Regions from separate parts of the Homo sapiens genome. Here all the other regions are linked to region 1. The links come from fine-mapping of genetic effects on gene expression. A gene starts in region 1. Each other region holds a variant in brackets. All regions are shown on one strand. Distances are between the middles of the regions.

Region 1 (8,181 bases):
CTGTTTCAGCTTTAAGGTTGTTGTGTTTTTGTTTTTGATTATATTGCTTGTTTTTTGTTTTTTTTTTTTTTTTTTTTGAGACGGAGTCTCGCTGTTGCCCAGGCTGGAGTGCAGTGGTGTGATCTCGGCTCACTGCAGGCTCTGCCCCACCGGGGTTCACACCATTCTCCTGCCTCAGCCTCCCGAGTAGCTGGGACTACAGGCACCCGCCACCTTGCCCAGCTAATTTTTTGTATTTTTAGTAGAGACGGGGTTTCACCGTGTTAGCCAGGATGGTCTCGATCTCCTGACCTCGTGATCCGCCCGCCTCGGCCTCCCAAAGTGCTGGGATTACAGGTGTGAGCCACAACGCCCGGCCGATTATGTTGCTTGTTAATAAAAAAGAAAAGAAAAGAAAAAAAAAGCACAGCCTTTCATTCCCACAGTCGGAGTGTGCTGGAATTCAGTGGGCTCCAGGGACCAGCTGTTCTGATGAGTCCAGGAATTCACCAGCCCCAGCTGCCAGACTAAACTGACCTTGGCATCAGAAACAGTTTCCTCTACAAGTAACCATTTTAGAATTGCTGAAAAACCAATGACAGCATCTCTGAAGCCCACTTAACATGCCTCCCCTTGCTAAATCACAAAAGATTCCTTGGCTTCTTGGAAGCAAGCAGATTTTGCTAGGACACAGCTGAGGTTATAGAACTTATGGCTGTCACAGGGAGGTCACTCCATTTGCATCTCAAAAAGTCTGAAAGTGGCCAGGTGCGGTGACTCACGTCTGTAATCCTAGCACTTTGGGAGGCTGAGGCGGGTGGATCACTTGACATCAGGAGTTCAAGACCAGCCTGGCCAATATGGTGAAACCCCATCTCTACTAAAAATGCAAAAATTAGTCAGACATGGTGGCACGTGCCTGTAATCCCAGCTACCTGGGAGGCTGAGGCAGGAGAATCACTTGAACCCAGAGGCAGAGGTTGCAGTGAGCCAAGATCGCGTCACTGTGCTCCAGCCTGGGTAACAGAGCAAGACTCTGTCTCAAAAAAAAAGAAAAAAAAAATTCTGAAAGTACTTCTGGTCTCTCTCTTTAGAGGTTAGAGTTGCTTCTGCTCAGAAATACACAGTTCTGGGAACTGAGTCTCATGTGGATAGGATGAGTATGCCTTATGGGCAAAGTGACAGTTCTTCCCAAAACTCAGATGGGGATGAAGAGGAGGGATGGGTGAGGAAGGGCTGTGGCCTCACTAGGCTTTAACTGAACAGGATATGGACAAGCAGCGAGTGTGGAGGGTGCCTACCGACTCTGAAGCCCTGGCTGGAGCAACACCCATGGCTAGGTGTGTCCCGGGCCTCAGGAACAGGTATGTGGGCCCCTCGCCACTGTACCTCCCCTCACAGGCTTGTGGATGTGTCAGATGGCAGAAGGGTGGGAGGAAAAGAGCTGCCCTGCGTGGGTGGTTCCATGGTCTCAAGCTAGTGCCATCAAGACAGGAAAAGGCCGGCTGGGCACAGTGGCTTATGCCCGTAATCCCAGCACTTTGGGAGGCCGAGGCAGGTGGATCATTTAAGGTCAGGAGTTCAAGACCAGCCTGGCCAACATGGTGAAACCTCATCTCTACTAAAAATACAAAAATTAGTTGGGCGTGGTGGTGGGCGCCTATAATCCCAGCTACTCAGGAGGCCAAGGCAGCAGAACTGCTTGAACCTGGGAGGTGGAGGTTGCAGTGAGCCGAGATCGCACCATTGCACTCCAGCCTGGGTGACAAAAGCAAAACTCTGTCTCAAAAAAAAAAAAAAAAAAAAGACAGGAAAAGGCCACATGTGCAGGGATGATCACAAGAGTCGAGGGGTAGGTAAGAGGGGGTGTGTGTGTGTGAATTTGAGCAGCTGCTTTTTAGGGAGTGTACAGTGGTGATGGTGTTTGTGCCTGTGTCAAATAGGGTGGTCTGATGATGTCTCCTTATAAGCACTATCTTGTCTTCTTGAAGACTTAATTAATTTCCAATGAAACTATCTTGTACAGAACTATCACCATGTAAAGTTGTGGGACAGGCAGGAAAAAAAAAAAAAAAAAAATATATATATATATATATATGCCAGGTGCAGTGGCTCATGCCTATAATCCCAGTACTTCCGAAGGCCGAGGTAAAAGGATCACTTGAGCCCAGGAGTTCAAGACCAACCCTGGGAAACATGATGAAATAGTGTCTCTACCAAGAAATACACACAAAAAAATTTGCCAGGCGTGTTGGTGCATGCCTGTGGTCCCAGCTACTTGGGAGACTGAGGTGGGAGGATTGCTGGAGCCTGGGAAGTCGAGGCTGCATTGAGCCATGATTGCGTCACTGCACCCAGCCTGGGCGACAGAGGGGCCCCTGTCTCAAAAGCAAACAAACAACAACAACAAAAACACATAAAGGGACAGACTCAGAGGTCACATGTGCATGAGAAGGTGTGACCGCCTGAGGGGAGTGAGGCTGCTGGGAGCGGTGGGAGACCCCGCTGGTAGTTGTGGGCGACAGCACACAACACTGGAGAGCTTGCCCGCCTCTGCTATGCACTGAGTGATTGTCAGCAAGTCCCTTCCCCCGCTTGGGTCTCAGTTTCCCCATCTGTGGATTGAACTCAGTGACTTCCACAAGCCCCCAAACTTTAAGGTTATAGCATTAGATTTCAAGTATGTCCAGATAGGAAAGAAGACACAAAGAAAACTACTGGTTTCTTTTAAAGTACAAGATATCCCACCGAGTAGGAGGTGGGAAGCCAGGAGCCACCATATGAAGGGGAGCAGTGAAGGGAGTTCAGGCCAAGGGTCCACACCAGCTGCTGGGTGTGATGAATAACTCAGAGTTGGGGTCCAGAAAAAAGTAGGGACGGGCCAAAAACTAGGGATGAGCTCCCAGGAGAGTGAGTCCTAGAAGGGAGTTTGAGAGTCTAGCTGGGGTCTCCTACAGAAAGGTGGTCCTTCCCTCAGCACATCTCCTCCAACCGCCTAGTTTTGATGAAATCAAGAAGAGACGCTCAACGTAGCGGGTGTGATATCCTAGTACTCTCCTGCAGTTGGGAGAGTGTTGAGGGAGAGTTCCAATCCAGGATAACCCACCCTTATTCAAGAATTAAGCGAACAGACAAGGTCTACCCTCCTACAGATTACCTTTGAACAGCCGCAGAGGGCCAAAGATCCGAGGCAGTGAACTCCTGAGTCCGAGTGAGGGTAAAAGGAGTCCCCAGACGGTGGAAATGGGGGCCTGGGAGTCAGGAGTCCTGAAACCAAGGGGAGCGTCCCGGGATCCAGAAGAGGAGGTCTCAGGATGGAGTGGGAAGAGTCTCGGGACCACAGATGAGGGAGTTCGGTAACTAAAGGGGAGGATCCCAGGACCCGGAGGAGGTGGGAGGGACTCTCAAGACCTAGAGGGAGGAGTCCTGCGACCAAAGGGGAGGGGTCCCAGGATCCAGAGGAAGCCGGGGGAGGTCTCAGGACCGAGGCGAGGGAGTCCCGGGATCACAGAGGAGCGGGTCCCGGGTTCGAGTCGCTCTTGCCCTCCCGCCCGGGCCCCGCGCTCACTGTCCATGCCGGGGAAGGGCAGCGGCTGCGCCCCCAGCTGCTGCTCCACCGCGATCTCCAAGTCAAACTTGATGTGGTCCACGCTGGCGATGATTTCCTGCATGGCGGCGGCGGCGGCCCCACCGGCCCGGCTCCCCCTCGGTCTCCTGCAGCCTTCTCGCCTTTACCCGCCGCCGGCCCCGCCGCACACACTCCTCCTTCGCTTCGCCTCGCCGCCGCCGCCGCCGCCGCCCGAGGGATGCCGGGAGCGCCCGGAGCCCGCGCCGGCCCTTGCGCCTGTCCAGGCACTGCCAATCGAGACTCCGCCGTTCCGCTAGTCCCAGCTAGCCGCCAGCCGAACACCGGCCTCGCCAGAAACCTGAAACCAGCCGCGTGAGTCGGCGACGCGGATTGCGCCTGCGCGCTTGGGGAGAGGGGGACCCGAGGAAGAGACTGGTTCGCCGCGGGGACCGGGCAGGGCTCCCCGTCGGAGTGCACTGCGCCGGACACTTCAAGTGAGTTCCTGTGTGATCCTCGCAGGAGCCCCGGGACCCGGGCCAAGACACGCCAGAGGGGAAGGAAGTGCCCGAGCCGGGATTGGAGCCGGGGGCGTCTGAGGAGGGAAACTGAGGCTGCAGAAGTCCGTGTGGAGAGGGGTCGGCGTTGGCCTGAGGGTCCGGGTGGGCCTCTGAGGAGGGGCGGGTCTCTCCGAGGAAGGACGGCCGCAGCGTGTCTCTAATTCAGGGTTTTTTCTCGCTCTGTGGCCCAGGCTGGAGTACAGGGGTACGATCATAGCTCACTGCAGTCAACTTCTCAGACTCAAGCGATCCTCCCACCTCAGCCTCCCGAGTAGCTGGAACTACAGACGCTGCACCACCACACTTGGCTAATTTTTAAAATTTTATTTTTAATTTTTGTAGAGACGGCGGGGTTGGGGGGGCGGGTGGCGGGTCTTGCTATGTTGCCCAGGCTGGTCTCGAACTCCTGGCCCCAAGCCCAAAGCGATCCTCCTGCCTGGGCCTCCCAAAGTGCTGGAATTGCAGGCATGAGCCACTATACAGCCTAATTCAGGGTTTTTTTTAACCAGGGTGGGGTAATGAGCTTGTGTAGGAACAAAATGCACCCCTATTTTTCTCTATGTGAAGTATAGCATTTCCTTTCCTGATTGCTGGAGCAGCCTTAGCAGTGCCTGAAACTGTGAGGGTGAGTGTAAATGATAGTTCCAGATAACAGTTTGTGCAGGGCCAGGCATGGTGGCTCACACCTGTAACCTCAGCACTTTGGGAGTCTGAGGCGAGAGGATCACGTGAGGTCAGGAGTTCGAGACCAGCCTGGACAGGATGGCAAAACCCCGTCCCTACTGAAAATATAAAAATTGGCCTGGAGTAGTGGCGCGTTCCTGTAATCCCAGCTACTTGGGAGGCTGAGGCATGAGCATGGCTTAAACCCGGGAGGCAGAGGTTGCATTGAGCCGAGATTGTACCACCCCACTCCAGCCTGGTGACAGAGTGAGACGCAAAAAAACCCAGTTTGTGCAGCAACTACAAGGTGGTATCTTAAGCTGTCACTTACATTTATTACTGCTTTGAAATTATGATAGAGTCGGCCGGGCGCGGTGGCTCACGGCTGTAATCCCAGCACTTCGGGAGGCCGAGGCGGGCGGATCACAAGGTCAAAAGATCCAGACCATCCTGGCCAACATGGTGAAACCCTGTCTCTACTAAAAATACAAAAATTAGCTGGGCTTGGTGGCATGCGTCTGTAGTCCCAGCTCCAGGGGAGGCTGAGGCAGGAGAATCGCTTGAATCCGGGAGGCGGAAATTGCAGTGAGCCGAGGTCACGCCTGAGGACAGAGTGAGAGACTGTCTCAAAAAAAAAAAAAGAAAAGAAAAGAAATTATGATAGGGTCTTGTTATTTCATGCATTGAAAATAAGCATCTATACTAGTATAGCAGAAATTTGTTTTTAAAGCATTTTGATGCCATTTCAATATCATTGCTTTTTGTTTTGTAATTCTGTGTATTGTAATTAATGCACGTAAGGCAGGGCATGGAGGCTTACGCCTGCAATCCCAACACTTTGGGAGGCCAAGGCTGGAGGATTGCTTGAGGCCAGGAGTTCTAGACCAGCCTGGCAACATAGGGAGACTCCATCTCTACAAAAAAATACAAAAAATTAGACAGGTATGGTGGTGTGCACCAGTAGTGCTAGTTAATTGAGAGGCTGAGGTAGGAGGATCACTTGAGCCCAGGAGTTGGAGGTTGCAGTGATTGTGCATTTGCACTCCACTGTGCCATCGCACTCCAGCCTGGGCAACATGAAGACCCCATTCCACAAAAAAGAAAATTACATAAACACCATGCTTGTAAGAAGGAGTGGCAGGGCTTGCCAGATGCAGAATGATAAAGGCCCCCTGCACTAGTTTCACAAAAGGTGCTGGTCAGGACAATCATCAATGCGTTACATGGACCTGAGTTCAAAGCCAGCCCAGCCCAAGCTGGCCAGTCTCACCCACTGCACTGCTGCAGGACCCCAGCAAGTCTCTCCCCTTGCTGGGCCTAGTTTTTTGTTTGTTGTTGTTGTTGTTGTTTTGAGATGGAGTCTTGCTCTGTCGCTCAGGCTGGAGTGCAATGGCGCGATCTTGGCTCACTGCAACCTCTGCCTCCCACGTTCAAGTGATTCTCCTGCCTCAGCCTCCCAAGTAGCTGGGATTACAGGGGCACGCTGTCACGCCCAGCTAATTTTTATATTTTCGGCAGAGATAGGGTTCACCACGTCAGGCTGGTCTCGAACTCCTGACCTGAGGGGATCCACCCACCTTGGCCTCCCAAAGTGCTGGGATTACAGGCGTGAGCCACCGCTCCTGACCTACTGGGCCTAGTTTTTAATCTGTTCAATCTGCCATCACTTGTAAGACTTTTCCAATCGCAACCTTCTAATATAACCAGACTCTAAAATACTTTAGGCTGGGCATGGTGGCTCATTGCTGTAATCCCAGTGCTTTGGGAGGTCGAGGCGAGAGGATTGCTTGAGTCCAGGAGTTCAAGACCAGCCTGGGCACATAGCAAGACCCTGTCTCTACCAAAAAATAAAATTAGCCAGGCATAGTGGCTCACACCTGTAGTTCCAGCTACTCGGGAGGCTGAAATGGGAGGATCGCTTGAGCACAGGAGGGTGGGGCTGCAGTGAGCTATGTCTGACCTGAACCTAGGCTTTCTAACCTCTGGGCCCATACTTCTTATTTTATTTATTATTATTATTTTTTTTTTTTTCTGAGACAGAGTCTCACTGTCACTCAGGCTGGAGTGCAGTGGCGCGATCTCAGCTCACTGCAAGCTCCGTCTCCTGGGTTCAAGCGATTCTCCTACCTCAGTCTCCTCAGTAGCTGGGATTAGACGTGTAGCACCACACCCAGCTCATGTTTTTTGTATTTTTAGTAGAGATGGGGTGTCGCCAGGCTGGTCTTGAACTGATCTGCCCGCCTCGGCCTCCCAAAGTGCTGGGAGTGCAGGCATGAGCCACCGCCCCTGGCCTGTTCTTTTTCTTTCTTTCTTTTCTTTTTTTTTTCGAGACAGAGTCTCACTCTGTCACCCAGGTTGGAGTATGGTGGCGCAATCTCAGCTCACTGCAAGCTCCATCTCCCAGGTTCAGGTGATTCTCCTGCCTCAGCCTCCTGAGTAGCTGGGATTACAGGCGCACAGCACCAAGCCTGGCTAATTTTTGTATTTTTCATAGAGACGGGGTTTCACCATGTTGTCCAGGCTGGTCTCAAACTCCTGACCTCAAGTGATATGCCAGCCTCGACCTCCCAAAGTGCTGGGATTACAGGCATGAGCCACCGCGCCTGGCCTGGGCCCATACTTGTAACCACTTCTTTCTTTCTGCCTTTTGTTACTAGGAACTGAGTTGACTCTCTTATTTTTCCTGATATATTCCAGGCCCTGGAGGGACAGGAAAGCCAGAAATGGACTTCGTGAGACTCGCTCGACTGTTCGCCAGGGCCCGCCCCATGGGACTGTTCATCCTGCAACACCTGGACCCCTGTAGAGCCAGGTGGGCAGGAGGCAGGGAGGGGCTGATGCGGCCAATGTGGGCGCCCTTCAGCAGCTCCTCCTCTCAGCTGCCCCTCGGCCAGGAGCGTCAGGAAAACACGGGCAGCCTGGGCTCTGACCCGAGCCACTCCAACTCCACGGCCACGCAGGAAGAAGACGAGGAGGAGGAGGAGAGTTTTGGGACCCTCTCTGACAAATACTCCTCCCGGAGACTATTCCGCAAATCCGCAGCCCAGTTCCATAACCTGCGGTTTGGGGAACGGAGAGATGAGCAAATGGAACCGGAGCCCAAATTATGGCGAGGCCGGAGAAACACCCCGTACTGGTACTTCTTGCAGTGCAAACACCTGATCAAGGAAGGGAAGGTAAGGGGCACTTTGGGTTCTGTGGCTCCTGGCTTCTTTCCCCTGGTGGCTCAGTGTTTTGCAAGGGGTCACCTGACTTTCCCAGCCTCTAAGTTTTGGGCCTACCCTGTTGAACTGCCAGCCTTATGGCTGTAAGTATCGCAACCCTTTGCCATCCTCCACCGCAGTTTTATTTTATTGTATTTTTTTTTTTTTGTAGAGACGGAGGTTGCACTGAGCTGATCTTACCACTAGACTC
Region 2 (8,181 bases), 130 kb before region 1:
CACATTGGCCAGGCTGGTCTCCAACTCCTGACCTCAAGTGATCTGCCCGCCTCAGCCTCCCAAAGTGTTGAGATTACAGGCGTGAGCCACTGCACCTGGCCTGGGGTATGTTTACTAAAATATTCCTTTGTAAAATGAAGCTAGCTGCTTTGCAGAATTGAGAATAAAGTTTAGATATGTACAAACATACGTGTGTGTAGGTAGGTGGAAAGACAGAAGATAAAAGTGCCCTCTACTATCGTATTTCTCTTCTCTCCCCTTTCAAGACCAAAATGACTCAGAACACAAACTCATGTATCAGGCCAATTAAATATCTGCTTAAAGGATTGCCCTAAAGGACTATTTTGAGTCCGCCTTTTTTAAAGTGTTTTACTTATTTAAAAAATATGGCTGGGCACAGCGGCTCACGCCTGTAATCCCAGCACTTTGGGAGGCTGAGGCAGGCAGATTACCTGAGGTCAGGAGTTTGAGACCAGCCTGGCCAACACAGTGAAACCCGGTCTCTACTAAAAATACAAAAATCAGCCAGGCAAGGTGGCAGGTGCCTGTAATCCCAGCTACTTGGGAGGCTGACACAAGACAATCGTTTGAACCCAGGAGGCGGAGGTTGCAGTGAGCCGAGATCACGCTACTGCACTCCAGCCTGGGTGACAGAACGAGACTGTCTCAAAAAACAAACAAACAAACAAAAAGTTATTCCTAGTTCTACTGAAACCTCGAACTATTTAGTCTTATTTTATATACCAACAACTTCCCAATCAAATCCCCTTTAAGTCCCAAACATTCAGCTTTTGTTCCAGAGGTCTGTGGAAAAGCAAGCTTTGTTATCAATGCAAAGGAAAGTGATCCATTCTTGCTGTGAAGCAAGTTCCAGGGAGGAAAGGAGTTGCAGCCAGAGATGTGATTCCAACATTCCCAAACGCTTCTGTCTGAGACCTTCAGATTTTGTTTGAAACAAATTCTCAGAATACCAAACACACCTTTATTCAAGTGGAAGTACAAAAGCACATTCCTAAACCAAACGCATACATGTGATTTTTACATATTCTGCTTTTTAGGGATTACATAATCCTGTTTCAGTCACCATACGTGACTACTGGTCTCTATACATAAGGGTATACATGTTTGACAGGAAAAAACACATGCATTTTTCATTTGCTTTTACATTTAGATCAATTCATTTATATATCAATTTCATTTAGATTCCTACCTTGCCTTGATGAAATCCTACTCTTGCTGATGGCAAAGAAGTAAAATATAGTGGCAGAACTATCCTAGAGGTTAGCCATAGGAGGATTATAGAGTGAGCAACATATTTTTATATATTTGTTGAGGGTCCCTACTGAATATTATAACACTGAACTATGAAAGCCTCAATTGCTGGACTGACAACAAGAATTTTAAATAACATTTGTCTTACTCACAAAATGTTATAAAGCTTAAGATGGAAAAATACAAAATGTTTTGACATTACCTAAAGAATCATGAACTCTTGTTAGGTATATGATGGTGGCCCTGAACTTGAGCCAACATCTGTAATCACTTTTATCAGTCAAAAAGCCATGTTCTTTTATATAGCCTGTAGACTATTAAAATACAAAAATGTGGTAATGGATAAACAACTATACACAAAGCCCTCACACTTCAAATACTGTCCTGGATTGATGAGAGAGGAGCAGAATTCAAACATTTATCTGCAATCCTAATGGTTAAAATTTTACCAGGAACAGACCTGCCACTCTCTTGAAATACTGTCTCTGAGATTAACATACGAACAGCATCATCTCTGTTGGAAGGCTACATTCCCTTATGATGCTGATTTGTGTGTGTGTGTGTGTGTGTATGGTTTTTTGTTTTTGTTTTTTTGTGTTTTTTTGAGAGAGAGTCCTGCTCTGTCGCCCAGGCTGGAGTGCAGTGGTGCAATCTCGGCTCACTGCAACCTCCGCCTCCCAGGTTCAAGCAGTTCTCCTGCCTCAGCCTCCTGAGTAGCTGGGATTACAGGCGCGTGCCACCACACCCGGCTAACTTTTGTATTTTTAGTAGAGACGGGGTTTCACCATGTTGGCCAGGATGGTCTCGACTGCCTGACCTCGTGATCCATCCGCCTCAGCCTCCCAAAGTGCTGGGATTACAGGTGTGAGCCACCATGCCCGGCCTGTGTATCTTCTTTATGTTTACCCTACCAAGAGCAGACCTGAGCATTTTGCTGGCCGTAGAGGTATATAAAAGAACTCTAAGCTTAGGCATGCAGAATAGGCACTGGATGAATGTAGTGAGGCTATTAGGAGTCTTGTTGGCTCCCTGATGTCCTTATCATGTCTTCTTCGCAGACTGTGGATGCACACAAGACAGCTAAAACCTTGGGCATCATTTGAAAATGTTTGGCTGCCTGCTACAATCTCAGGAGAGAGAATCCTTCATACTTATATTGGACTGGATATATTGTCAATCAAATTCTTTTTTAAAAAAAGATGCTTCACTTTAGGAAATAAGACACCAGACCAGCAACATCAAGTAGGTATGGAATACTTGCTGGTGAAACACTTAAAACTAGGAAACTTCTAAATCTTCTAAAGGTGCTTAAGAGAATGGAGAAGTTAATCAACAGGAATCCAAGTGTTGTGGCTGTAAAGCAATACGACATAAGATCCCTAGTAAAGAGCAGGCCTAAGAGTTGGTTTTGGAAAGAACTTGGGCCAAGAACAGCAGAAAAAGCTAAATGAGCTACTTACGTCGATGTGTTTTAATACTGGTGCATTAGCAGTATCTTATGGAAGTTGTGAACACTAAGAACCAATTTCAAAAAATATAAAAATGTTTATAGGGCATATTAAAATAAAAACAGCTTAAATGAGTTCTATAAATAAAATAGGCCCAGCACAGTGACACACGCCTGTAACCCCAGCACTTTGGGAGGACAGGTGGGAGGATCGCTTGAGGCCAGGAGTTCAAGACCAGCCTGGGCAACAAAGCAAGACCCCATCTCTGTTCTTTTTAATATCAAAATTATAATAAAAAAGTAAAAATAAACGTACCTACTTAGAATACATATTAAATAAAGGAACTCCATGAGAAAATGTCACTGCATTTACCAAGTCAACCCTAGATTTTTGTGCAATGAAAAAGATTGGGACTATGTATTAACAATTTCATAAACAAATAATCAACAATTTTCTCTCCATTATTTCGATGTTGGGTAAAGCCTGAAATGTGGTGTCGAGTTTTTCCATTTGCGTTACATCAAATTCTTGTCTACTATGGATATTCTGATATGACAAAGACTAGTTAAACTCCTATTGAAAGATCTGCCATTTACTACACCCAAATAAGTTCTCTTAGGTATAAATTCTTTGATGTTGAATGAGCGTTGGGTTATGACTGAATCTCCTCACACACATACATGCTTATTACATTTATAATCTTTTTGCATGGCGTGAATTTGATACTAAACAAGGTAGTTTCTTTGACTGATGGCTTTTTCACATTCATTGCAGCAATGGAATTTTATTCCCATGTGAATTCTCCAAATGTGACTAAGGTATGAAAATACTAATAGCATGAAAAATTTGCCACATTCAATACATTT[G/A]TAAGATTTCTCACTGGTATAGATTTGCAGGAGTCGATTAAGAGTTTAACACTAATACCTTTTCTTCATTCGTCACATTCAGAGGGTTTCTCTCTGGTGTGAATTATCTGATGCTGAGCAATGGCTGAGCTATGACTGAAGGCTTTACCACATGCAGTACATACATGATTTCTCCCTGGTGTGAACTCTCAGATGCTGAATGAAGCCTGAATTTGATAAATATCTTCCCATCTTCATTACATTCATGAGTTCTCTTTGGTATGAATGCTCTGATGTTGAACTAGATGTGCTCTCTGACTGGAGTTCTTTTCCCATACATCACAATCAAAGGCTTTCTGTCTGGTGAGGACTTCTTGTTGCAGGATAAGATCTGAGCTATGACTGAAACTGCCCTCATACTCATTACATTCATACGATTTCTCTTTCCTATGCATTTTGTGATGCTGAATAAGGCATGAGGTTTGACTGAAAGCTTTTCCACATTCATTACATTCATGTGCTTTCTCTCCTGTGTGAATTCTTTGATGCTGAATAAGATGTGAATTCAATCTGAAGTCTTTTCCACATTCACTACACGTATAGGGCTTTTCTCTGAAATGAATTCCTTGTTGTTTAATATAGGCCAACCCATATTCATCATACTCATAGGCTTTCTCTTCATGATGGACCCTCTGATGTTCAAGTAGGTATGAAGTATGGCAGAAGTCACTGCCACATACAGTACACTTACAGGGCATCTCTTTGTGAATTTTCTGATGTTGAGTAAGGTGGACACTACGACTGAAGACTCTTTCACAACTGCTACATTTGTAAGATTTGGCTCTGGTGTGAATTTTCTTATGCTGAATTATGCCTGAGCTTGGACTACAGGATTTATCAGACGCTTCACAGGATTTATCAGATGCTTCACATTTGTAAGGTTTTTCTCTAGTGTGTATTCTTTTATGTCGACTAAGACTTGAGCTCTGACTGAAAGACTTTTCACATTCTTTACATTTGTAGGGCTTCTCTCTAGTATGGATTCTCTGATGTCTAGTAAGGGCTGAGCTCTGATGGAAAATTTTCCCACATACATCACATTTATAGGATTTCTCAGTGTTAGGGATGCTCTCCCATTTATTAAGGTGGGAGAGATCCATTAAGCTTTCCTTACATTCACTACTCTGAAAATCCTCTGTTAGATTTAAGTGTTCATGTTTACCAGAGGCTGAATTCTGGTTGAAGCTCATGTCATACTTATCATTGTCATCGGTATTCTGTATTCTAAGAACTCTCTGATCTGCATCAATAGTAGAGTCCAGACTGAAGCTTTTTTCGGGTTCATGACATTCATTGTTCTTCTCACTGGTGAAGGTTTCCTTGCTGATTGTTATTTGCCTAAACTCTCTCTCCAGGTACAGAAATTTCCTTAGAATTTCCTGAAGTCTTTCTAATCTGTCCTCAGACTTATACACTTCTCTAGTCTCAGGAACTTGGGTAATATCGTGTTTGAGTCTTCCTACTCTCACTTTGTATGAATGCACTTCTTCCGAAATTTTCTGCTTAGGAATCAACAGCTTGTTCTCTTCTCTGGTCTCTCCATCTGATACAATATATAAATAGAAAATGCAAATGTAATCTGTACCCTGTGCTTAGGAAAAGAAAACTCAGATGAGAAAACTAAACAATGTAGTATCTACAAGGACAAGAAAAGTTTATTTACTCTGAAAAACAGGCACAAAATCTCAACAGCAGAAGTTAAGGGCATAAACAGGAGCAGTGAGGTAAAACAGCGGACATGTTCAGCAGAGTAAGGAAATAATAGGGAAACAGCTGAAAGAATTTTAGATAAGCAACTTGATTGGGGTCTAGTACGACATGTGCACGGATACTAAACAAATGGAAAGGGTCAACCTAACTGAAGGGAAAAGGAAGGAACTCTCCATGCTAGGACACACACAGAGCTCTTCATTCTGAGTGCCAAAGCAGCTACAACTTGGCTCAACAATTGAACTTTACTTCCCTACTAATTCTATCTGATTCTGCCTTACTCACCTGAGCAGTCATCTCTTAAGACTTCTCTAGTCTTAGTTTCCAGATCAAAGACCTGTAGATCCTGTTCCAGCTGGGAGATCCCATCAGGCTTGGAAATTGGAAATCCTGCTCATAGAGAAGGAAATGGGATGTGGCAATGTATCCCCAGGTCCTACATCTGCCACTTTTTCTTTTAACTAATGATTAAGAGAGACAGAAGGTCGATTCTGAGAAGACATTAATTAGGAAGGTCTGGAGAGTGAAGAGGGCAAAGATCTACAAGGAGCTCAGATTTGTGCTCTAGAGGGATGTGTGTTAAGGGGCAAGTTGATGACTTGGGAGCAGAAGGATTCATTTAAATATTATTCAGACAACAGAATGTGTGCATGGGTTTGTCTTCACAGAAGTTATCATTATCACTCTCCATCTGTTACCTAAAGATTAATCTTCGGATTAGATCTGGTCTACAAGTATCAAAATGGAGGTCATCAAAATGTAATTCTGCTGGACTGGAGAAAGGTGAAACTCAAGCACCTGCTGCATGGTTAGCTAACCTGTAGCAAGAGAATCAGTGAAAACTGAATAAATATTCTAAGGACCAATCTCAAGAAACAATTTGTTTCAGTACACATAAGAAAACAAAGAGTAATATGACACATTCTTACCCATTAGGAGTGTAGCATTTATTCAACAAACATTTATGAAGTGCCTCCTCTATGCAAAGTATGCAGGGGATAAGAGGCCAAGAAGGTCCCTTCCCTCAAGGACCTCACACTCTACACAGAGACAGCTCTAAACAACTAACTACAATAAAATATAGAGAGGGAAGTGCAATCAGTGCATCTTCACATAAAACAGTCTTTCTATGGCTTGCATAATGCAATGCTTGGATATAAATCTCTTTTAAAGCTAAAGCAACAGGCAGTCTGCTTCCAAGGAGACAGAATTTTAATACTATTAGTATCAAAGGGCAGTTTTTAAATGTGTCCAGCCCAGAAAGCTTCTAATAGCACACATACAAGGTCTGGCTCAAGCCCCTCATCTCCAAAAACCTTTCTCTCCATTTACTGAATGTGTACAAAATTTATTAGTTGTTCCCTCTTATCCTGACATGTCACATATAACGGTGTTTACATAGATTTTTTTTTAAGTGGTTTCAGGTATTGTCATTCATACTTGATTTATAAACTCTTTGATAGAAGGGACCAGGTATCTTGTATCTTGCAATTCTTTTGATTAATTTACTTAACGGCTACTTATTGAGTGCCAACTCTGTGCGCCCAAGTATCAATGTATTAACAGCTACCCAATTTTATAAAAAGGGCATTGGGGCTGGAAAATATGAAGAACTGACAGCTGCCCCAAAGATTCCATGTGAGAGCCTATGAGCAAGGAGATCAGAATAGATAGAAGAAAGGTATTTACTGTGTTTCTGAAATCCTGTGGGACATTTAGAGTCAACTCTCCTTGTGGACATATATTTAATTAAGGTCCACCCTGTCAAATGAAATCGTTTCAGAAGTTTAAAAAGTAAAGTTAGTGTAACATGAAGCAGCAATCAATATTGTTCTCAGAATTCCAATAACATAATTTGCAACTTTTAACTCTGAGATATTTAAAGTGTCTGTCGATATTTGGTAACTGAAATAAATTCTGGCTGCTTACTCCATATCTACACTTAAAACACATATGCACAACAAAAAAGGTGGTCTTCATGTGGGATGAGGGGTTTGATTTTAGATGTGTGTTTAATGTAATGTACGAAGGTATAAGAGAAAATGCCCAGCAGATGAGTACGCAAAGGCATACAGAGTGATAAAATGGACTTCAGAGACTAAGAAGGGAAAGGGTGGGAGAAGGGACAAGGGATAAAAAACTATATATTAGGTACAATGTACACTATTCCAGTGACAGGTGCACTAAAATCTCAGAATTCACCACTATGTATTAGAATTCATCCATGTAACAAAAAACCACTTGTACGCCCCCAAAACTACTGAAATAATTTTTTTTAAAAGAGAAAATGCCTAGCAGGTAAAGATACAATATCACAGTTTAGAAGAGAGAACAGGGTATCATCAGTACCATCAAAATATTATTAAGTTTTACTAAGTACTTGGTAGGTGCAAAGTACCATGCCAAGAGCTCTCTAGGTTTTCACTCATTTAATACCATAAATTTAAAACGTAGAAACTATTATTATAGCCATTTTACAGATGGGAATACTAAGATTCAGAGTGGTTAAGTAGCTTGCCCAAGGTTACAATAACTGGTAATGCTTAGTTTTCAAACCTGCACAGTCTTATTTCAGAACCTAGCCTTTAAACAATCTGCTAGTAAAAAAAAAATTATGATTTTGCCTCCTAACAAGCCCTGAAAAAAAATAAATAATGACTGTGAACAAAATCCATCCCTTCCTCCAAATTACACACAGAAAGAACGTGTAAGTTTTCTTGGCACTAGCCTAAATGCCTATTTCCTAAATTTAACTCAAAACTTTGCTTTCAAAATATGCACTTGCTTTATTTACATTTTTCCTGTTTAAAATTAATGTATTAAAACTTTTTGATTTTATTTAAATC
Region 3 (8,181 bases), 300 kb before region 1:
ATGATGGTTTCCAGCTTCATCCATGTCCCTACAAAGGACATGAATTCATCCTTTTTTATGGCTGCATAGTATTCCATGGTGTATATGTGCCATATTTTCTTAATCCAGTCTATCATTGACAGACATTTGGCTTGGTTCCAAGTCTTTGCTATTTTGAATAGTGCCACAATAAACATACGGGTACACGTGTCTTTATAGCAGCATGATTTATAATCCTTTGGGTATATACCCAGTAATGGGATGGCTGGGTCAAATGGTATTTCTAGTTCTAGATCCCTGAGGAATCGCCACACTGACTTCCACAGTGGTTGAACTAGTTTACAGTCCCACCAACAGTGTAAAAGTGTTCCTATTTCTCCACATCCTCTCCAGCACCCGTTGTTTCCTGACTTTTCAATGATCGCCGTTCTAACTGGTGTGAGATGGTATCTCATTGTGGTTTTGATTTGCATTTCTCTGATGGCCAGTGATGATGAGCATTTTTTCATGTGTCTGTTGGCTGCATAAATGTCTTCTTTTGAGAAGTGTCTGTTCATATCCTTTGCCCACTTTTTGATGAGATTGCTTGTTTTTTTCTTATAAATTTGTTTGAGTTCTTTGTAGATTCTGGATATTAACCCTTTGTCAGATGAGTAGATTGCAAAAATTTTTTCCCATTCTGCAGGCTACCTTTTCACTCTAATGGTAGTTTCTTTTGCTGTGCAGAAGCTCTTTAGTTTCATTAGATCCCATTTGTCAATTTTGGCTTTTGTTGCCATTGCTTTTGGTGTTTTAGACATGACGTCCTTGCCCATGCCTATGTCCTGAATGGTATTGCCTAGGTTTTCTTCTAGGGTTTTTATGGTTTTAGGTCTTACATTTAAGTCTTTATTCCATCTTGAATTAATTTTTGTATAAGGTGTAACGAAGGGATCCAGTTTCAGCTTTCTACATATGGCTAGCCAGTTTTCCCAGCACCATTTATTAAATAGGGAATCCTTTCCCCATTGCTTGTTTTTGTCAGGTTTGTCAAAGATCAGATGGTTGTAGATGTGTGGTGTTTGTTCTGAGGCCTCTGTTCTGTTCCATTGGTCCATATCCCTGTTTTGGTACTAGTACCATGCTCTTTTGGTTACTGTAGCCTTGTAGTATAGTTTGAAGTCAGGTAGCGTGATTCCTCCAGCTTTGCTCTTTTTGCTTAGGATTGTCTTGGGAATGTGGGCTCTTTTTTGGTTCCATATGAAATTTAAAGTAGTTTTTTTTCCAATTCTATGAAGAAAGTCATTGGTAACTTGATGGGGATGGCATTGAATCTATAAATTACCTTGGGAAGTATGGCCATTTTCACGATATTGATTCTTCCTATCCATGAGCATGGAACATTCTTCCATTTGTTTGTGTCCTCTTTGATTTTGTTGAGCAGTGGTTTGTAGTTCTCCTTGAAGAAGTCCTTCACCTCCCTTTAATTTGGATTACTAGATATTTTATTCTCTTAGTAACAATTGCAAATGGGAGTTCACTCATGATTTGGCTCTCTTTCTGTTATTGGTGTATAGGAATGCTTGTGATTTTTGCGCATTAATTTTGTATCCTGAGACTTTGCTGAAGTTGCTTATCAGCTTAAAAGGATTTTGGGCTGAGACGATGGGGTTTTCTAAATATACAATCATGGCATCTGCAAACAGGAACAATTTGACTTCCTCTTTTCCTAATTGAATACCCTTTATTTCTTTTTCTTGCCTGATTGCCCTGGCCAGAACTTCCAATACTATGTTGAATAAGAGTCATGAGTGAGGGCATCGTTGTCTTGTGCTGGTTTCAAAGTTTTTGCCCATTCAGTATGATTTTGGCTGTGGTTTTGCCATAAATAGCTCTTATTATTTTGAGATACGTTCCACCAATACCTACTTTATTGAGAGTTTTTAGCAGGAAGGGCTGTTGAATTTTGTCGAAGGCCTTTTCTACATCTATTGAGACAATTATGTGGTTTTTTAATCGTTGATTCTGTTTATGTGATGGATTACATTTATTAATTTGCATATGTTGAACCAGCCTTGCATCCCAGGGATGAAGCCCACTTGATTGTAGTGGATAAGCTTTTTGATGTGCTGCTGGATTCAGTTTGCCAGTATTTTATTGAGGATTTTGGCATCAATGTTCATCAGGGATATTGGTCTAAAATTCTCTTTTTTTGTTGTGTCTCTGCCAGGCTTTGGTATCAGGATGATGCAGGCCTCAGAAACTGAGTTAGGGAGGATTCCCTCATTTTCTATTGATTGGAATAGTTTCAGAAAGAATGGTACCAGCTACTCTTTGTACCTCTGGTAGAATTCAGCTGTGAATCCATCTGGTCCTGGACTTTTTGGTTGGTAGGCTATTAATTATTGCCTCAATTTTAGGGCCTGTTATTGGTCTATTCAGACATTCAACTTCTTCCCGGTTTGGTCTTGGGAGGGTTTATGTGTCCAGGAATTTATCCATTTCTTCTAGATTTTCTAGTTTATTTGTGTAGAGGTGTTTATAGTATTGTCTGATGGTAGTTTGTATTTCTGTGAGATCGGTGGTGATATCCCCTTTATCATTTTTTATTGCATCTATTTAATTCTTCTCTCTTTTCTTCTTTATTATTCTGGCTGGCGGTCTGTCAATTTTTTTGATCTTTTCAAAAAACCAGCTCCTGGGTTTCACTGATTATTTGAAGGGTTTTTTGTGTCTCTATTTCTTTCAGTTCTCCTGTGATCTTAGTTATTTCTTGCCTTCTGCTAGCTTTTGAATGTGTTTGCTCTTCCTTCTCTAGTTCTTTGAATTGTGATGTTACAGTGTTGATTTTAGATCTTTCCTGCTTTCTCTTGTGGTCATTTAGTGCTATAAATTTCCCTCTACACATTGGTTTACATGTGTCTCAGAGATTCTGGTATGTTGTGTCTTTGTTCTCATTCATTTCAAGAACATCTTTACTTCTGCCTTCATTTTGTTATTTGCCCAGTAGTCATTCAGGAGCAGGTTGTTCAGTCTTCATGTAGTTGTGTGGTTTTGAGTGAGTTTCTTAATCCTGAGTTCTAATTTGATTGCACTGTTGTCTGAGAGACAGTTTGTTGTGATTTCCATTCTTTTACATTTACTGAGCATGCTTTATGTCCCATTATGTGGTCAATTTTAGAATAAGTGTGATGTGATGCTGAGAAGAATGTATATTCTGTTGATTTGGGGTGTGGAGTTCTGTAGATGTCTATTCAGTCCACTGGGTGCAGAGCTGAGTGGACATGAACATTTTATCAAAGAAGAAACACAGCTATCAAAAATCCAGAAATATTGAACCTTGTTAATAATAAAGTGGCTGGCCTCTGGTTCATTCCTGTAATCTCAGTCCTTTGAAAGGCTGAGAAAGGAGGATCACTTGAGGCCACAAGTTCAAGACCATCCTAGACAAGTCAGTTCAAGACCAGACTTCATGTCTACAAAACATCAAAAAATTAGCCAGGCATGGTGATGCATGCCTGTCATCCCAGCTACTCAGGAGGCTGAGGCAGGAGGATTGCTTGAGCCTGGGAGATTGAAGTGGCAGTGAGCCATGATTGTGCCATTGCACTCCAGCCTGGGCAATGCATCAAGACTCTGTCTAAACAATAATAATAATAATAGTAATAGTAATAATAATAATAATAAAGAAAACGGTTGGGACGCCATTCCTTACTTATTCAATACACAAAGTTAAAAGCAATTTCTACTTTCTCTATTTTTTTATTACTAAAAAAAGCTGAACCATTCTCACAGCCTGAAATGCTTCTCACCTTCCCCTCTTCTATACAAACACTTCTCTGTTGATGATAATGCAGACAGTCTCTCCTTTAGGAATACTTCACACCAGGTAGTTCCAGATCCCCTTATCTCTGCCTTCCCAGAGCTCCTGGTGTCTCCCCAGTTCCCTCTGTGTGGTGAAGTACCCCCACCTTGGGTCTCAGCATGACTCGTTCTTTGAAGGTCTTGTTCACATTTTCCCTTATGGTTCTGTTCCCCTGTGTTGTGTCACAGCACTGGGCAGAGTGGACAACCCATTCACACCGATAGAGAGGGCCCCATGGTTCTGGAGATAACCATGTAACTGATCAGAATAGGGCATTGAGGGCTGGGTGTCAGGCATGGGCTGCACTTGGGTGGGCAGGCCCCCTGGAAAGTCACAGGATTTGGCAAGCTTCCTAGTAACATCTCTCCCTGGGGTCCTCTTGGAACTTCATGCCCGATGCTGGATGCTGGTTTATTCTCGAGAGATGGTTCATTCCAATAATCAATGAAACTCATGTCCCAACTAAAGTTCATAAACTCCAGTTTGTAAACTGAGATAATCTCAGCTGAATGAACTTGCTGACCCTCTGCTTTCCCCCAGCCTCTCAGTGCCCTTGAAATCATGTCAGTTCAAGCAGCCCCATGAGGCATTACAATGTTTAGTTATTTCAGTGTTTATTAAACCTTGCCCTATGCTGACCCCAGGTGAATCACAAGCTGGACTTCTGACAAGGACAAGCTATGATATTCTTTTCAATTACAGAAAAAGTAAGTTAACTGATAGGATTTTTTAAAGATGTTACTAGTTTTGGAAAGGTAATTTGTGCACATGGTAAACAAGAAGGTATAAGAGGATAATGCTTTTATACTGCTGAGAATAATGTTTTCTCTAATTTTTTTTGGTAGATGCTTTCATCAGATTAATAAAATTCACTGCTGTTAGTTGTTGAAGGTTTTTTATATCATGAATGGGAGTTGAATATTATCATGTATTATTAATATATTATTATTGAACTAGCAAAGGCTCTTCCTAAAACAATTGAGATGATCTTATAAT[C/T]ATTCTCCTTTAATCTGTTGATGAGATCATTGGTATTTATACTTTTTCTCTGTTAACTATTCTTGAGTCTCAGGTTTAAATTCAACTTGGTCATGGTGTATCATCTTTGAACACTCCTGTCTCTGGCTTGCTACTATTGTGTTCAGCATTTTTGCACTGATGCCGATGAATGAGACTGGCATGTCATCTTCCTTTGCGGTCCTGATTTTTTTCAGATTTGGATCATGTGGCCCTCATTGAATGAGTTGGGTGTGATGCCTTCTTTTTCATGTAACTGGATTGATGGGACACTTTGGAGTCTCTCCAGATGGCCCTCAATGGTCCCTGCCTCCTCATTGTTAGGCTCCTAGGCAACCCTTTCTCATTTCTGGTAGGCCCAGGAACCTGTGGGTTTTATGTTTGTTTGTTTGTTTGTTTGTTTGTTTTTTGAGTTGGAGTCCTGCTTTGTCTCCCAGGCTGGGGTTGGAGTGCAATGGCCTGATCTCGGCCCACTGCAACCTCCACCTCCTGGGTTCAAGTGATTCTCCTGCCTCAGCCTTCTGTGTAGCTGGGATTACAGGCATCCACCACCACTCCTGGCTAATTTTTGTATTTTTAGTAGAGACGGGGTTTTACAATATAGGCCATTGTGATCTCTTGGACAGGCTAGTCTCAAATTCCTGACCTCATGATCTGCCTGCCTCAGCCTCCCAAAGTGCTGAGATTACAGTTTTGTGCCTCCACACACAGTGAATCTGTGGTTTTTAAAAGCTCCTCATGCATGTGAATTCTGTGAGCATCCCGGGATGACAGCCACTGTGTGTCCAGCTGTTAAAACTGTGAGAAAGCACCAGCGGGACCCTCTCCAGCATTTGCTTGCTGTGGTCATGAAAGAGGCTTGTTGGGGAGATGATGCCCTGGTTGACTCCTGAAGGATGGTTAGGAATGCACCAGATGGAAGCTGGGTTGGACCCAGTCTATGCTAAAGAACAGCTTGTGTGGACACAAGGAGACACGAACACATCATTTTTGCAGAGCCTGGGGAGTAGCCAATCGCACCATTTGCTTAAAACACCGTGTACAGTTGGAGAAGTGGACTGAGACAGGCTGAAGAAGCTAACAGTGGCCAGATGAGAAAGGGTCTTGTGTTACTTCCTAGATATACTTAGATTTTATCCTGTGAGTGATAGGAACAGTTGCAGGGACTGAAGCCAAGGAAGCATGCTTTAAGATTCCATGTTTTTTGAGATGCTGTCTGGTGGCTGAGTAGGGAATTCCCTGGATAAGTACTGCCCAGGGTAGGCAAAAGAAGCTAGGAGGTTACTGAAATAAGGAGTATGAGAAATGGTGTAGGTTTTGCTGATGTTTTGTAACACATCTCATGACAATCTTCATTTCCTTCACCAATTTCCTGTTTCATTAATTCCCTTCCACGTGCTCTTCTGAAATTTGCCTCATATTCTTTGATTTCTCTTTTACATGTTGGTTTCATCACCTTTTACTTTTTGCTTTCCTGGAAACACAAATGATTCTGATTGTGACATGTCAGAATTATTTGCAACATTCCCCTTTCTGCTGAAACATGAGCTCACTGAATACACAATTTAGTAAAGTGTAGGATGCACATGTTGTTTTCATGGTCATAACCAGCTCTGTAGCATTTTATAACTACACTGGCAGTGTGCTGGGAGGTGTAGAGAGAAATATTTATCTCATGTGTGGCTGACACAACCTGCCAAGTTGTTTTAGGAGCCTTCTTGGAATCCCAGCAAGAACACCACTGATGCAATTTGAAATCACAATGTCCTGCTCCATGCCCTGGCTTCATGGCTTAGTCACGTCTGAAGTCTATTTCTAACTATCTGTTTCCACATCTATAAAGCATGAGTTAAATCATCCTAATACTACTCATCTTACAAAGTTTTCTTGCTGATATTAGGAGAGTTGGGAAAGAACTGTATAAATTATGAAGTGCCATGGAGATGTTGGTGGTTACTTTATCAAGAAATAGACACTCCAGAATAGAGTAGAAAGAAAACAGTTATGATTAAGTCCTCCTCCTCTTCTTTTTTTTTAATTTACAAAGAAAGGTTTAATTGAGTCACAGTTCCATATGGTTGGGGAGGCTCAGAAAACTTGCAATCATGGCAGTTGGCAAAGTGGAAGAAGGCACCTTCTTCACAAGGTGGCAGGAGAGAGAGAGCTCCTCTTCTTTTTTGTTGTAAAGTCTACAGAAGTGCATATACTTCAGGGCAAGGGCAGGCAGGGAGAAGAAAGGACATTGCTTCACCCCAGTCCTCACTGACAAGTTTGCTTTGGGACTTCATTTTGTCCCAGCATATGGGACAGAGCTCTGGCCACTACCCATTCAGAAGGCCTGAGCTGCATTGCTAGTTCCCCACTAACTCTGTGTGTCCTTGGGCAAGGCTGGGCTTATGTCAAAAGATTATGACCCTGGGCTCTCCAGCTACAGAATCTACATATGAATCCTGGCTCTGCTAGAGCAATTAGTGACGTAACCTTGGATGGGTCAGTTAACCTTCCTGTGGCTTAGTTTGCTCATCTGTAAAATAGGGATCATAACAACATCAATACCATGGGTTGTTAGACAGATTGAATCAGTTAATGCAGGGTAAATACTTAGCATGACACGTATTCACTATCATTTCCTTGAGTAAAAGCTGAGTGTGAGTGGGTGTGAGAATGTGTGAAACCCTTTCACTGCAATCTCAGTTAAGAAACCCATCCATAATTTAAAGTTCAGGGCCTAAATGGGTGGTTATCTTCTCCCAGTTGCATCCTATCCCACCTTTGCTCTTCTCCTGCCTGTAGGAGCTGTTGGTCTTTGATTGGGCTGGAAGACCTGGTGGACCCTAAGTGATCTATAAGAGAATGAGAATAGAGGACAGGGAATGTCTTCAAAACTCCTAGAGGGACACAGAGGCTGAGAGGCAGGCAGTCCTGCAGGGGTCTTCTGATTGGGACAAGGAGGACCTTGGTCTTCATAGGCCAATTCTGGTCAATTTCCCCCATGGACAGATGAGGAAACAGATCCAGGAATATCCAAGGTCTCACACTTCCCATCTGTCAAGTCTTGTTGATTCTGTTGTATTCATGTCTTTCAAAGAGAGAGAGAGTTTAAGGAAAGAAAGAAGGATCAACTGTGTCTGATATCACTGGGAGCTTAAGTAAAGGGTTCTTTTACTTCATAGCATTTTTCCCAATTTGTAATTCAGTATTATTTTTGTCACTGTTTAGTATCTCTTTGTCCTATTAGAGAGATAGCTTCATCAGGACAAGGATTTTGATTCTTTAATATTTAGTGCTTGCCACATGCCCTGAACACAGCAGGCATACAGACTAACCAACATACAGTGGCATCG

Direction of the effects. Alleles are on the strand shown, and positions count from the first base shown. SD is a standard deviation of normalised expression in the study named.
For the expression in esophagus mucosa of the gene that starts at base 3,790 in region 1, A is the low allele of the variant in region 2 and G is the other (small effect, 0.26 SD a copy in GTEx).
For the expression in tibial nerve of the gene that starts at base 3,790 in region 1, allele T in region 3 goes with a lower level than allele C (small effect, 0.23 SD a copy in GTEx).

The links.
Region 2: its variant is fine-mapped to the expression of CPSF4 in esophagus mucosa (GTEx, PIP above 0.99).
Region 3: its variant is fine-mapped to the expression of CPSF4 in tibial nerve (GTEx, PIP 0.99).

Annotation. Positions count from the first base shown.
Region 1 is chr7:99,434,552-99,442,732 of GRCh38, reverse strand. It overlaps CPSF4 (cleavage and polyadenylation specific factor 4), which reads right to left and starts at 3,790. Exons shown (of 8, transcript NM_006693.4): 1 at 3,548-3,790. The coding sequence starts at 3,650. ATP5MF-PTCD1 (ATP5MF-PTCD1 readthrough) reads left to right here. Exons shown (of 9, transcript NM_001198879.2): 3 at 7,465-7,943. It overlaps PTCD1 (pentatricopeptide repeat domain 1), which reads left to right and starts at 3,935. Exons shown (of 8, transcript NM_015545.4): 1 at 3,935-4,041; 2 at 7,465-7,943. The coding sequence starts at 7,491. It also overlaps the pseudogene LOC100131859. RefSeq lists silencers at 3,496-3,795, 7,294-7,441 and enhancers at 4,056-4,345, 5,642-6,167.
Region 2 is chr7:99,569,232-99,577,412 of GRCh38, reverse strand. It overlaps ZNF655 (zinc finger protein 655), which reads right to left. Exons shown (of 3, transcript NM_138494.3): 3 at 960-5,168. The coding sequence ends at 3,829. Among named protein-coding and RNA genes, the nearest start is that of ZNF655, 15 kb to the right of the region's middle. The variant G/A (reference allele first, on the strand shown) is at 3,587.
Region 3 is chr7:99,739,065-99,747,245 of GRCh38, reverse strand. No RefSeq gene overlaps it. Among named protein-coding and RNA genes, the nearest start is that of CYP3A7-CYP3A51P, 8.0 kb to the right of the region's middle. RefSeq lists a cis regulatory region at 2,741-4,569 and enhancers at 5,785-5,803, 7,128-7,146, 6,986-7,498. The variant C/T (reference allele first, on the strand shown) is at 4,820.